Regions from separate parts of the Homo sapiens genome. Here region 1 is linked to region 2. Evidence: fine-mapped expression QTL. Tissue or cell type: whole blood. Region 2 holds a variant in brackets; the other region holds the start of a gene. All regions are shown on one strand. Distances are between the middles of the regions.

Region 1 (5,891 bases), 190 kb before region 2:
GGTTTTTTTTTTTTTCTCCAAAATGAATAGTGATATGACATACATTTCTCTTTCTTTCTTCTCTTTCTTCCTCTCCCTTCCTCCCTCCCTCCCTTCCTTTCTCTCTTTCTTTCCTTCCTTCTTTTTCTCCTTCCTTCCTTCCTTTTCTTTCTTTCCTTCCTTTCTTCTTTTTCTTTTCCCTTTCTTCCTTCCTTCCTCTCTCCCTCCACTCCTTCCTTCTCTCCCCCACCCCCCGCCCCCACCTCTCTCTCTCTCTCTCTCTCTCTTTCTTTTTTTTAAGACAAGGTCTTAAAAAATTCTCTCATTTCCCAGGCTGGAGTGCAGTGGCATGATCACGGCTCACTACAGGCTCAATCTCCTGTGCTCGGGTGATCCTCCCACCTCAGCCTCCCAAGTAGTTGGGTCCACAGGTGCGTGCCACCACGCCCAGCTAAATTTTAAAAATTTTCTGTACAGACAGGTTCTTGCCATGTTCCCCAGGCTGGTGTTGAACTACTGGGCTCAAGCTATCCACTCACCTCAGCCTCCCAAAGTGCTGGGATTAACAGGCATGAGCCACCTCTCCCAGCCACATTTCTAAACAAAACAAAACAGCCCAATTTTTTACAACCCAATTTTTATTATTTTCATTTCCTGTTATTTTTATAGTTTGTTTTCTAAGAAAAGGAATTCCAATCAGAAAATCCTTAATCGATACTGCTACGTGGATTACAAGAAGCAGTATTCACAGAATCAAGTGTTTTTTTTGTTTGTTTGTTTTCTGTTTTTTGTTTTTTTGAAATGGAGTTTCACTCTGTTGCCCAGGCTGGAGTGCAGTGGTGTGATCTCGGCTCACTGCAACCTCCACCGCCCAGGTTCAAGCGATTCTCCTGCCTCAGCCACCCAAATAGCTGGGATTACAGGCACGTGCCACCATGCCTGGCTAATTTTTGTATTTTTTTTTTTTTTTTGAAACTGAGGGAGTCTTGCTCTGTCGCCAGGTTGGAGTGTAGTGGCATGATCTCGGCTCACTGCAACCTTCGTCTCCCGGTTCCAGCTATTCTCCTGCCTCAGCCTCTCAAGTAGCTGGGACCACAGGCGTGCACCACCATGCCCAACTAATTTTTGTATTTTTAGTAGAGACGGGGTTTCACCATGTTGGCCAGGATGGTCTCGATCTCTTGATCTTGTGATCCACCTGCCTCAGCCTCCCAAAGTGCTGGGATTACAGGCGTGTGCCACCACATCCAGCCTAATTTTTGTATTTTTAGTAGAGATAGGGTTTCACTATGTTGGCCAGGCTGGTCTTGAACTCCTGACCTCAGATGATTCACCCGCCTCGGCCTCCCAAAGTGCTGTGTTTACAGGCCTGAGCCACGGCTCCCGGCCAAGTTTCCTTTTTTTTGTTTGGTCTGCTTACTTAATAGTGGAAAGAAAGAGAGTCTCGTTTTATTTTCCTCTTTCTTAACTGGGCAGAGTGTACATTTTTTTCTCATGTGTGTTCAATCATTTGTGTGCTTTTTTTTTTGTGATTTGAAAAATCCCATGACAAGGTGTATTTTCCATCATGCTTTTCCTTACCTAATTTTATAAACTCTTTGTATATTTGTGGTTACAATGTTCCTAATTTGGCTATTTGCCTTTAATTATAATTTTTGATATTTTCTCATTCACAAGATTAGTTCATTATGAAGTTTGCTCATTTTTTATATTTTTTACTTTTCTCTCCAGCAAGTTCCTAGTTGACTCAACAATATCAGCAAGGCTCGGCTGGAAGCCTCTAATCTTTACTACACAGAAATAACCTCGGTTTACTATTCATGTTTCCCACGGGCATCTAGTGCATTTCCAAGTCGATTTAAAAAATCTTCACAAAGACAAAAATACCTCATTAGATCCTGCGCTTGCTTGGAATACAGATTTATAAAAATTTTTTTTTGTTTTTGTTTTTTAAGACAGAGTCTCGCTCTGTCGCCAGGCTAGAGTGCAGTGGCACGATCTTGGCTCACCGCAACCTCCGACTCCCTGGTTCAAGTGATTCTCCTGCCTCAGCCTCCTGAGTAGCTGGGATTACAGGCATGCGCCACCACGCCCGGCTAATTTGTGTATTTTTAGTAGAGACGGGGTTTCACCATGAGCCAGGATGGTCTCATATCTTGACCTTGTGATCCGCTCGCCTCGGCCTCGCAAAGTGCTGGGATTAGAGACGTGAGCCACGGCGCCCGGCCCAGATTAATTTTTTAAAATGCAAAACTTGCACAATCTTATTTTAACCATGCTTGCTTGTTTTCAAAATAATTAAAAAACAAAAACACAAGATTGCTCTTCCCAAAGGCTTATTTCTTTCCTTTAAATTTATTTTTTAAAGAAAAGCTAACGGCCGGGTGTAGTGGCTCACGCCTGTAATCCCAGCACTTTGGGAGGCAGAGGCGGGTGGATTACGAGGTCAGGAGTTCGAGGCCAGCCTGGCCAACATGGTGAAACCCCGTCTGTACTAAAAATACAAAAATTAGCCGGGCGTCGTGGCAGGCGCCTGCAATACCGGCTACTCGGGGGGCTGAGGCAGGAGAATCGCTTGAACCCGGGACGCGGAGGTTGCAGTGAGCCGAGATCGCGCCACTGCACTCAAGCCTGCCTGGCAACAGAGCGAGGCTGTCTCAAAAAAGAAAGAAAAGCAAAGCAAAGCTAACAAATGCTCTTCTGTCATGCATCATCACAGAATCAATGAGAGCTCCCCCCAGCCAGGAGACAGCGGACAACCAGGGTAGCTTCCCAGGGGGCCAGAGGGAGGCTGCGCGAGAAGAGGCTCAGCGGGATGGGTCCACGCAGGGAGATCCCACGCAGGGTGGGCGTATACGAGTGTCCACGTCCGGAGGGCCGTTCAAGGGCGGGTCCCTGAAGGAAGGGTGCACGCAGGGCACGTCCACGCGGGCAGGCCCGTGCACGCAGGGCGTGCCCATGCAGGGCGGGTCCGTGCAGGATGAGAGCAGCGGAGGAGGCCCACGCAGGCCATTTCCCGCCCCGTCCCCAGCCCACGCGGGCGAGCTACCGCGGGGGTACGCGCAGCTCAGATCCTAGCAGCTTACAAAAACAACCTTTTAAAAATGGAACCTTCAAGTAAAAATAAAACTTTGTTTCCCTCTTTCGCAGGAGTTACTGAAGTAGGAAGGGACAGCCCAGTAAGATTTCAGGATACGACTTGGGCCGGTCCGCAGGCAGTAGAGTGAAGCGCGCAGCTGCCAGGACTTGCGCGGTGACGTGCGCCGCTGCCAGGACCTTGCAGGTGGAGAGCATAGTTGCCAAAATCAAGGCGGAGGAGCGCACCGCCGCTAGGATCCAGGCGGAGAAGCCCACCGCGGCCAGGACCTAAGGATGCAGTACACTGCTGCCAGGATCTTGTCTGTGGAGCGCAGCGCGGCCAGGACCTCCGGCTGCAGCACACCGCTGCCAGGATCTTATCGGCAGAGCGCTCCGCGGTCCGGACCCCGCCCCGTGCGCGTCCCCGACCCCGCCCCGTGCGCGTCCCCGGCGTTGGCGTCTTCGTCCTGTTGCTGGTCTCCGTCCGGTCGCCGGCCGTCTAGGTCTCCGGCCCTCCCCAGCCGCTCCTGCGCCCTTGCCGGCCCCGCCGCCCGCAGCCCTGGCGCTCCCTGCGGGCCCCGCCGAGGCCGCCTGCGCCCTGTGCCAGCGCGCGCCCCGGGAACCGGTGCGCGCCGACTGCGGCCACCGCTTCTGTCGGGCGTGCGTGGTGCGCTTCTGGGCCGAGGAGGACGGGCCCTTCCCGTGCCCCGAGTGCGCCGACGACTGCTGGCAGCGCGCCGTGGAGCCCGGCAGGCCCCCGCTCAGCCGCCGCCTTCTGGCGCTCGAGGAGGCGGCCGCGGCGCCCGCGCGCGACGGCCCGGCCAGCGAGGCCGCGCTGCAGCTGCTGTGCCGCGCCGACGCCGGCCCGCTCTGCGCCGCCTGCCGTATGGCTGCGGGCCCCGAGCCGCCCGAGTGGGAACCGCGCTGGAGGAAGGCGCTGCGCGGCAAGGTGCGCGCCGCGGGGTCCCGTGCCCCACCCCGGACGGTGCCCTGCGCCTCTCCGCCCCCGCCCCGGTCCCCCTGAGCCCTGGGCCCTTCCCGTCTCCACTGTTCCTGTCCCCGGATTGTCCCCGTCCCCGGATTGTCCCCCTCCCCTCACCGCCACGGGTCCCCTCTCCAGCGTGTGCTGGGCCCCTCCCTCCTGCGGCTTGCCTCCCCATATTTCCTGCGTCTCTTCGGAGTCTGGTCCCCTTCCCCGTCTTGGTGTCCCCTGCTGGGCGGTGCCTTATCTCCCCACCCCCTACCTTCTACGAAGTCCTTCCCCCACCAGCGCCCATCTTTGTGGTCCCATCACTAGCTGTGCCCTGTCTCGCCCTCATAGACCCCCTCTAGTTCCTACAGATTGACTCCTCCACTCACTCTTCCCTTGGGGGAGACATCACGCCTCTTGCCCCTCTGTATTCCACTGTGTCCACAGGCCTGGCCCACCTTCTCGTCTGCTCCCCGGGCCACCCAGCCCTCGCCTGCACCCCCTGTCCCCTCTCCCATCTTTCAGAAACCCGCTCTGAGAGTCTGGCAGCAGCGGGTCCGGGAGTCTGGAGCCTTGCCCATGGCGGGTTGGTTGTGGGACACAGAATAGGAGACAACAGCCAGCCTGGGGTCCTGCTCTTCAATACAGGGGAGGGGAAGCCAGCCAGACTGTGTCCCTGGGTGCTCCTCCTGCATTGGGGGTCCTGCCACCGGGCAGAGCGACCCCCATCCGGCTCAGGCAGGGCAGGGTGTAGGGCAGGCTGTGCAGACCTTTGGTACAGGCCGAACTCACACTGAACAGGGCCACTTACAGACACAGAACTCCTAAACCCACCTAGACAGTCCCCTTAGCCCCAGCACCCAGATCCTTCTGAATAGGTGTGAAGCCCAAGAAACCTTTTGACTGCCTGTGCGTTCCTGCCCTAGACAACCGGGCTTCGAGGTTATCTCTGGGATGGTCAGACTGTGTGCAGTCAGCTGGGGTGATGTCCCTCAGTACTGGGCTGGGTTGGGGGACCCAGAGCTTCTGCCCACCCCTGGTGACCTTCTTTTCTTTACAGGAGAACAAGGGGTCTGTGGAAATCATGAGAAAGGACTTGAATGACGCCCGGGACCTGCATGGCCAGGCAGAGTCAGCAGCTGCAGTGTGGAAGGCAAGTGGGGGGACCTGGGGCAGCCTGGAATGAGGGGACTGTGGGCTCAGGGCTCTAGACAAAGGGACCACCAGGCCAAGTGGGCCAGGCCTCTGAACTGCTCAGCTGGTTGGTTGGAGGAGGGGCCTCTGGACTTAAGTGAGCTTCAGGGTATTTTTTTTAGGATGTGTTTGTATTTCTCAAATAGAATCTAGCCAAAGCCAGTGGAAGCCTCTTTTTCTCCTCACATTTTACCTGTAGGTGATGGCAGCATCAGACTTCTTTTTTTTTTCCCAAGAGACAGAGTCTCACTTCATTACCCAGGCTGAAGTGCAATGGCATGATTGTAGCTCACTGCAGCTCGAACTGGCCTCAGGCGATCCTCCCACCTCAGCCTCTGGGACTATAGGCACGTGCTACCACACCTGGTTAATTTTAAAATGCTTTTCTAGAGGTGGGGGTCTTGCTGTGTTGCCCAGGCTGGTCTCAAACTCCTGACCTTAAGCGGTTCTCCCGCCTTGGCCTCCCAAAGTGCTATTTTTTTTTTCTTTTTTAGAACACATCTGTAATTTTCTGTGGTCCTCTTGTTCTGATCTGAGAGTTGCTCATTATTTTTTAGAGGCTAGAAGTCCAAGATGAAGGAACTGGCAGATTCCCTGTCTGGTGAGGGCGTTTCCTGGTTCATAGATGGTGTCTTCTCACTGTGTCCTCACATGGTGGAAGAAGTGAGGG
Region 2 (5,891 bases):
CCTGGGTGATGCTGAGCCTGGGCCAGCAACACAGTCTTGGTGGTTCATGTTTCTTGCATTACAGCCTCTGTGCTTTTTTGGATGGAATGTTTAACTTGGAAAATAAAAGCTCTCACCTCCTAATTTTTTCTTCTGAGAGCCAGCACAGCTAAACCTAAGAATGTTTTTTCTGCAGGCTATAACTGAAGGACTGAGGTAATCCATGAGCTTTTATTAAGCCATGTCGCTGGTTAAGAACTTATGAAATGTTATTGGAATAGAACTAAAAGGCCTTAACTTGCTTGAGTAAAATTTTAACTTAGATGTAGTCTCCTAATTCTTAGACCTATGGTGTGTCATGTCTACCTTACGGGTACTTTTTCTGAACCTGATAATAATGGCATGACCGTTTAGTATGGAGAAGAGTATAATTTCCTAAAAATTAATATCATTTTAGCTACTTCATTGTGAAGTGCATTTCTGCCCAGAATTCTCTCAAAGTCATAGTGATGCTTAAAGGATGCAGTTTGTTCTTTGGTGCACTTCAAACTGAAAATCATAAGGGTGCTGAGATAGTGATTAAAGAACGACCACAAGAATATAAACATGAAGTTCAGATAACTAGTTGCTTTTGAAAACCTCCAGGCTCATACACAGTAGCCAGTCAAGTGGGTTAAACATCAAGCCCTTATGGTGGGCCTGGCCTTGCTCTTGGCAATGGGATAAATAAAGTTGCTGCTACTAAGAATCTCATGCAGAATAGTAAGTAGGTAAGTTAACGGCAGTACTGGTAAGAGCAGTAAAGAGGATGAATTAGAATCTTGTGGGGCTGATTTAGATGGGGTTGGGGGTCAGGAAAGACCTCTCTGAAGAAGTGAGAACAGATCCATTTATTTTAACTTAAATGTCAGTTAAAACCTGAGAACAGATCCTTGTCAAAAATGTGGCCCAGCCCAGATAATCATTAAGGCCACCCCCTTTCCTCAGCAGAGCTAGATTAGGGGCCTCTTCGCTAGCTGGGCAGTTGCCCAGAGCACTAATAATTAAGGAGAACAGAAACATCAACTGGAGGAATTCAGCAAAATGTAAATCAGTCCTTCCAACAAATGATGAGAATGTCCCAATGGAAAATAAAACTGAAGAGTGAACACCATCTCTTACCTCTCAAGGTCTCTCCTTTAGGATGGGTCAAGTGTTAGGAAAAGCCAACCTAAAAAGCATAAGAAGAGTAGCCACTTAACAGACCAGTTCTACATTCTTCTGGAACGTTCTATGATGACTTACTTGGATGAGATCTTCCTACTTCCTCATTCCCAGCATAGATGTTGATATTGTTTGGGTCTGTGTCCCCACTCAAATCTCATGTCGAGTTGTGATTCTCAGTGTTGGAGCAGAGGCCTGGTGGGAGGTGACTGGATCATGGGGGCGGACTTCTCCCTTGCCGTTCTCATGATAGTGAGTGAGTTCTCACAAGCTCTGGTGGTTTAAAAAGTGTGTGGTACTGCCCCCTTTACTCTCTGTCTGTTGCTCCACTGTGGGAAGAAATGCTTGCTTCCTCTTCACCTTCTGCCATGATTGTAAGTTTCCTGAGGCCTCCCTAGCCATGTCTCCTGTACAGCCTACAGAACTGTGAGTTGATTAAACCTCTTTTCTTCATAAATTACCCAGTCTTAAGTTGTTGTTGTTGTTTTTTCAGATGTAGTCTCACTCCTGTTGTGCAGGCTGGAGTGCAGTGGCGTGATCTTGGCTCACTGCAACCTCCACCTCCCGGGTTCAAGTGATTCTCCTTCCTCAGCCTCCTGAGTAGCTGGGATTACAGGCATGCATCATCATGCCCAGCTAATTTTTGTATTTTTAGTAGAGACAGGTTTTCGCCATGTTGGCAAGGCTGGTCTCAAACTCCTGACCTCAGGTGATCCACTCGCCTTGACCTCCCAAAGTTCTAGGATTACAGGTGTGAGCCACCATGCCTAGCCTCAAGTAATTCTTTATAGCAATGTGAAAACAGACTAATACAGATGTCTTATGGTCTATTTCTTAAGAAATAAGGTGGTAATTTTTATTATTTTTAAATATGGAAAATGTGAATTTAAAAATATGACAATCGGCCGGGGGTGGTGGGTCATGCCTGTAATCCAAGCACTTTGGGAGGCCGAGGCAAGTGGATTACGTTAGGTCAGGAGTTTGAGATCAGCCTGGCCAATGTGGTGAAACCCCGTCTCTACTAAAAGTACAAAAATTAGCCCAGCATGGTGGTGGGTGCCTGAAATCCCAGCTACTCATGAGGCTGAGGCAGGAGAATCACTTGAACCTAGGAGGCGGAGGTTGCAGTGAGCTGAGGGCCACTGCACTCCAGCCTGGGTGACAGAGCAAGACTCCATCTCAAAAAAAAAAAAAAAAAAAAAAAGAGAACTAAGTGAAAAGGATTGATGGAAATATTTTCAACTTTAACACCGTGATTTCTAACCAGTGGACACTAAGTGGTCATCAAATCCATATTTGTACCAGGTATAGTCTTAGTGACTTTATATGAATTTATTGCCATTTTTCAAAATAATATAGATCTTGTGATTATACATTTATCTAGTTATATAACTGAGTTCTGTTCTTGTACATTCTTTTGAATAAATGTATACACCAAAGAGAAAACTATCATGTAGGAGTCAGCCATGTTTATGTAAGTGTGCACACTGGTGCACATGCACACAAATCAAAAGAGTTCCTGAAACTTAAGTGAATGGAAATGATTGTGCTTACATATATGCCAAACATTCTTCTAGAAAACAGAGCAAAAAATCTAGGGCCTTCATTTTGATATAATTGCATTTTCATATATATACACACATACATGTTTTTGAGATGGAGTTTTGCTCTTGTTGCCCAGGCTGGAGTGCAATGGTGCAACCTCAGCTCACTGCAACCTCTGCCTCCCGGGTTCAAGCAATTCTCCCACCTCTGGAGTAGCTGGGATTACAGGTGCCCGCCACCAGACACAGCTGATTTTTTGTATTTTTAGTAGAATTGTTGTTTCAACATGTTTGCCAGGCTGGTCTCGAACTTCTGACCTCAGATGGT[C/T]CACCTGCTTCGGCCTCCCAAAGTGCTGGGATTACAGGCACGAGCCACTGTGCCCAGCCGCATTTTCATATTTTAAAAGAAAATTTTAATAGCACAAAGTTAAACCTTTGTAACTTAAATTTGAAGTCGGAATTTAGGTGGGTCAGCTTGATCTTTCCAGTTAAGTCAAAAACTACTGATAAAAATGTGAGAATGAGATGTATTCCCTCAAAGATGATGATGCACATGCCCAAGTTTAATACTGCAGTAGTGGGGAGTGGAGAAATTAGTTTAAACTACCTGGATACACTATTTTCATAAATCACCTTTGCCATCACCTCAGGAAGTTTGAGTTTTTCTCCGGGGGTATGATCCAAACTTGCGTTGCCATAGCATCCAAGCCTTTTTCAGTGGTTTTGTCTTACTGTGTTACTACGGTTTCCCACTGCCTAGTATTACCCAGCAAGAGAGTACTGAGACAAAGTCAATGAATTGGCTGGGTTTCAGGCAGATTACTTCTTACTCCCTGCAGGTAGCAGCAGCCCGATTTCCACCTGTAATTGGGATGAACTGCCACAGCTTATTCTTTACTTCTTGTCTAGTGGCACAAGTAACCCTAAATGGCTAGGGTAGTCTCAACTTCCAATTTTATTTTTACTTGATTAAAAAAATTCATATTGAAATATACGTGCCCCAAATGCAAATGTTTTAAGCATAGAACCTGGCAAACTGGCAAACATACACACTTGTACTCATCACTCAGATCAAGAAATAGAACATTCTTAGTATCCCAGAAGCCCCATCTGATCACTTTTCCTAATCTTTTCTTCACGGGACACCACTAATCTAACTCCTTAAACCACACATTAGTTTTGCTTGTTCTTGATCTTTGTAAAATGGAATCACAGCATGCATTCTTTGTGATAGTTTTCTTTAGCTCAACATTATTTTGGTGAGATTCATTCATGTTTTTGCAGTTGTAAGTTGGTTTATTTTCATAGCTGCTTGAATATACCCCAATTAATTTATCCATCCACTATGAGGGACATTAGGGGTGTGATATGGTTTGAATTGGTGTCCCTGCTCAAATCTCATGTTAAATTGTAATCCCCAGTATCGGAGGAGGGACCTGGTGGGAAGTGATTGGCTCATGGGGACGGATTTCCTCCCTGCTGTTCTTGTGATCATGAGAGAGTTTTCAAGAGAGCTGGTTGTTTAAAAGTGTGTAGCACCTTCCCCTTCACTCTCTTCCTCCTGCTCTGGGCATGTAAGACATGCCTCCTTCCTTTTCACCTTCCGCCATAATGTAAGTTTCCTGAGGCCTTCTCAGTCATGCTTCCTGTATAGCATGCACAATTGTGAGCCAAATAGACTTATTTTCTTTATAAATTACCTAGTCTCAGGTAGTTCTTTATAGCAGTGCAAGAACAGACTAATACAGGGTGTTTACAGCTTTAGGTTATTCTAAATAGCATATGTCTTTTGGAGCACATGTGAATACATTTCTATTGAGCGTATCTAGTGCTACAGTTGCTGGGTCATAGGAAATGTGCATGCTCTACTTTAGTAGATCCTTCCAAAGAATTTGTCAAAAGTGATTGTACCAATTTACGCTTCCCATCATGACAGTTTTAGTTTTTCCGCATTCTTGCCAACACTGGCTTTTGCATTTTAGTTACTCTGGTGGAACTATAGTGGAAGTGTTGTGGTTTTAACTTGCATTAATTTGATAACAATTGATATTGAGTTCCTTTTCATGCATGCATTGGCCATTTGAATATCCTCTTTTGTGAAGTTATATATCTTGGCCATTTTTCTATTTGTCTTTTCTTATTAAGTCTTCCTTTGTCAAATATATACTGCAAACACATTCTCTTGTCATTTAGTTCTCTTAATGCAATCGTTTGAGGTTCCTGATTTTAATTTAGTCTAATATACACATCTTTTCCTTAGTGTTTAGTACCTTTTTTTTTTTTTTTTTGAGAGGGAGTTTCACTATTGTCACCCAGGCTGGAGCGCAGTGGTGCAATTTCGGCTCACTGCAACCTCTGCCTCCCAGGTTCAAGCGATTCTCCAGCCTCAGCCTCCTGAGTAGCTGGGATTACAGGTGCCTGCCACCACACCCAGCTAATTTTTGCTTTTTAGTAGAAACGGAGTTTCACCATGTTGTCCAGGCTGGTCTCAAACTCCTGACCTCCAGTGATCTGCTTCCCTCGGCCCCCCAAAGTGCTGGGATTACAGGCATGAGCCACCGCACCCCAGCTGTTTAGTACCTTTTGTACCCGCTAATAAATGATTTCCTACCACAAGGTCATGACTGTATACTTGTATATTATATTCTTTTTTTTAAATTTTTTTTTATTTTTAAGACAGAGTCTCGCTCTGTCGCCCAGGCTGGAGTGCAGTGGCGCGACCTCGGCTCACTGCAAGCTCCGCCTCTCGGGTTCACGCCGTTCTCCTGTCTCAGCCTCCCAAGTAGCTGGGACTACAGGCGCCTGCCACCATGCCCGGCTAATTTTTTGTATTTTAGTAAAGACGGGATTTCACCGTGTTAGCCAGGATGGTCTCAATCTCCTGACCTCGTGATCCGCCCGTCTTGGCCTCCCAAAGTGCTGGGATTACAGGCGTGAGCCACCGTGCCTGGCCTCCTATATTATATTCTAAGAACCTTTATTGTTTTACTTTTCAAACTTAGATCTGCAGTTCACAAGGATTGATATGCTTGCATGTGATTTAAGTAGGGTTCAAGTTTCATTTTCCTCCTTATTGATATGAAATTGAAGCAGCACTGTTTCTTGAAAAGATCATTCTTCCTCAGGGTTCTGCAGTGTCTCCTATCACAGATCAAGTGTGCATAG

What was found. PIP is the estimated chance that this variant, and not a neighbour inherited with it, causes the effect.
Region 1: it holds the start of RNF187, and the variant in region 2 is fine-mapped to the expression of RNF187 in whole blood (INTERVAL, PIP above 0.99).

Annotation. Positions count from the first base shown.
Region 1 is chr1:228,483,873-228,489,763 of GRCh38, forward strand. It overlaps RNF187 (ring finger protein 187), which reads left to right and starts at 3,510. Exons shown (of 4, transcript NM_001010858.3): 1 at 3,510-4,006; 2 at 5,088-5,180. The coding sequence starts at 3,617. RefSeq lists enhancers at 2,388-3,249, 2,569-2,948, 3,250-4,110, 4,228-4,956, 4,957-5,684 and silencers at 3,569-3,688, 3,949-4,148.
Region 2 is chr1:228,669,350-228,675,240 of GRCh38, forward strand. It overlaps a transcript of RHOU not described here. Among named protein-coding and RNA genes, the nearest start is that of RHOU, 63 kb to the right of the region's middle. The variant C/T (reference allele first, on the strand shown) is at 3,055.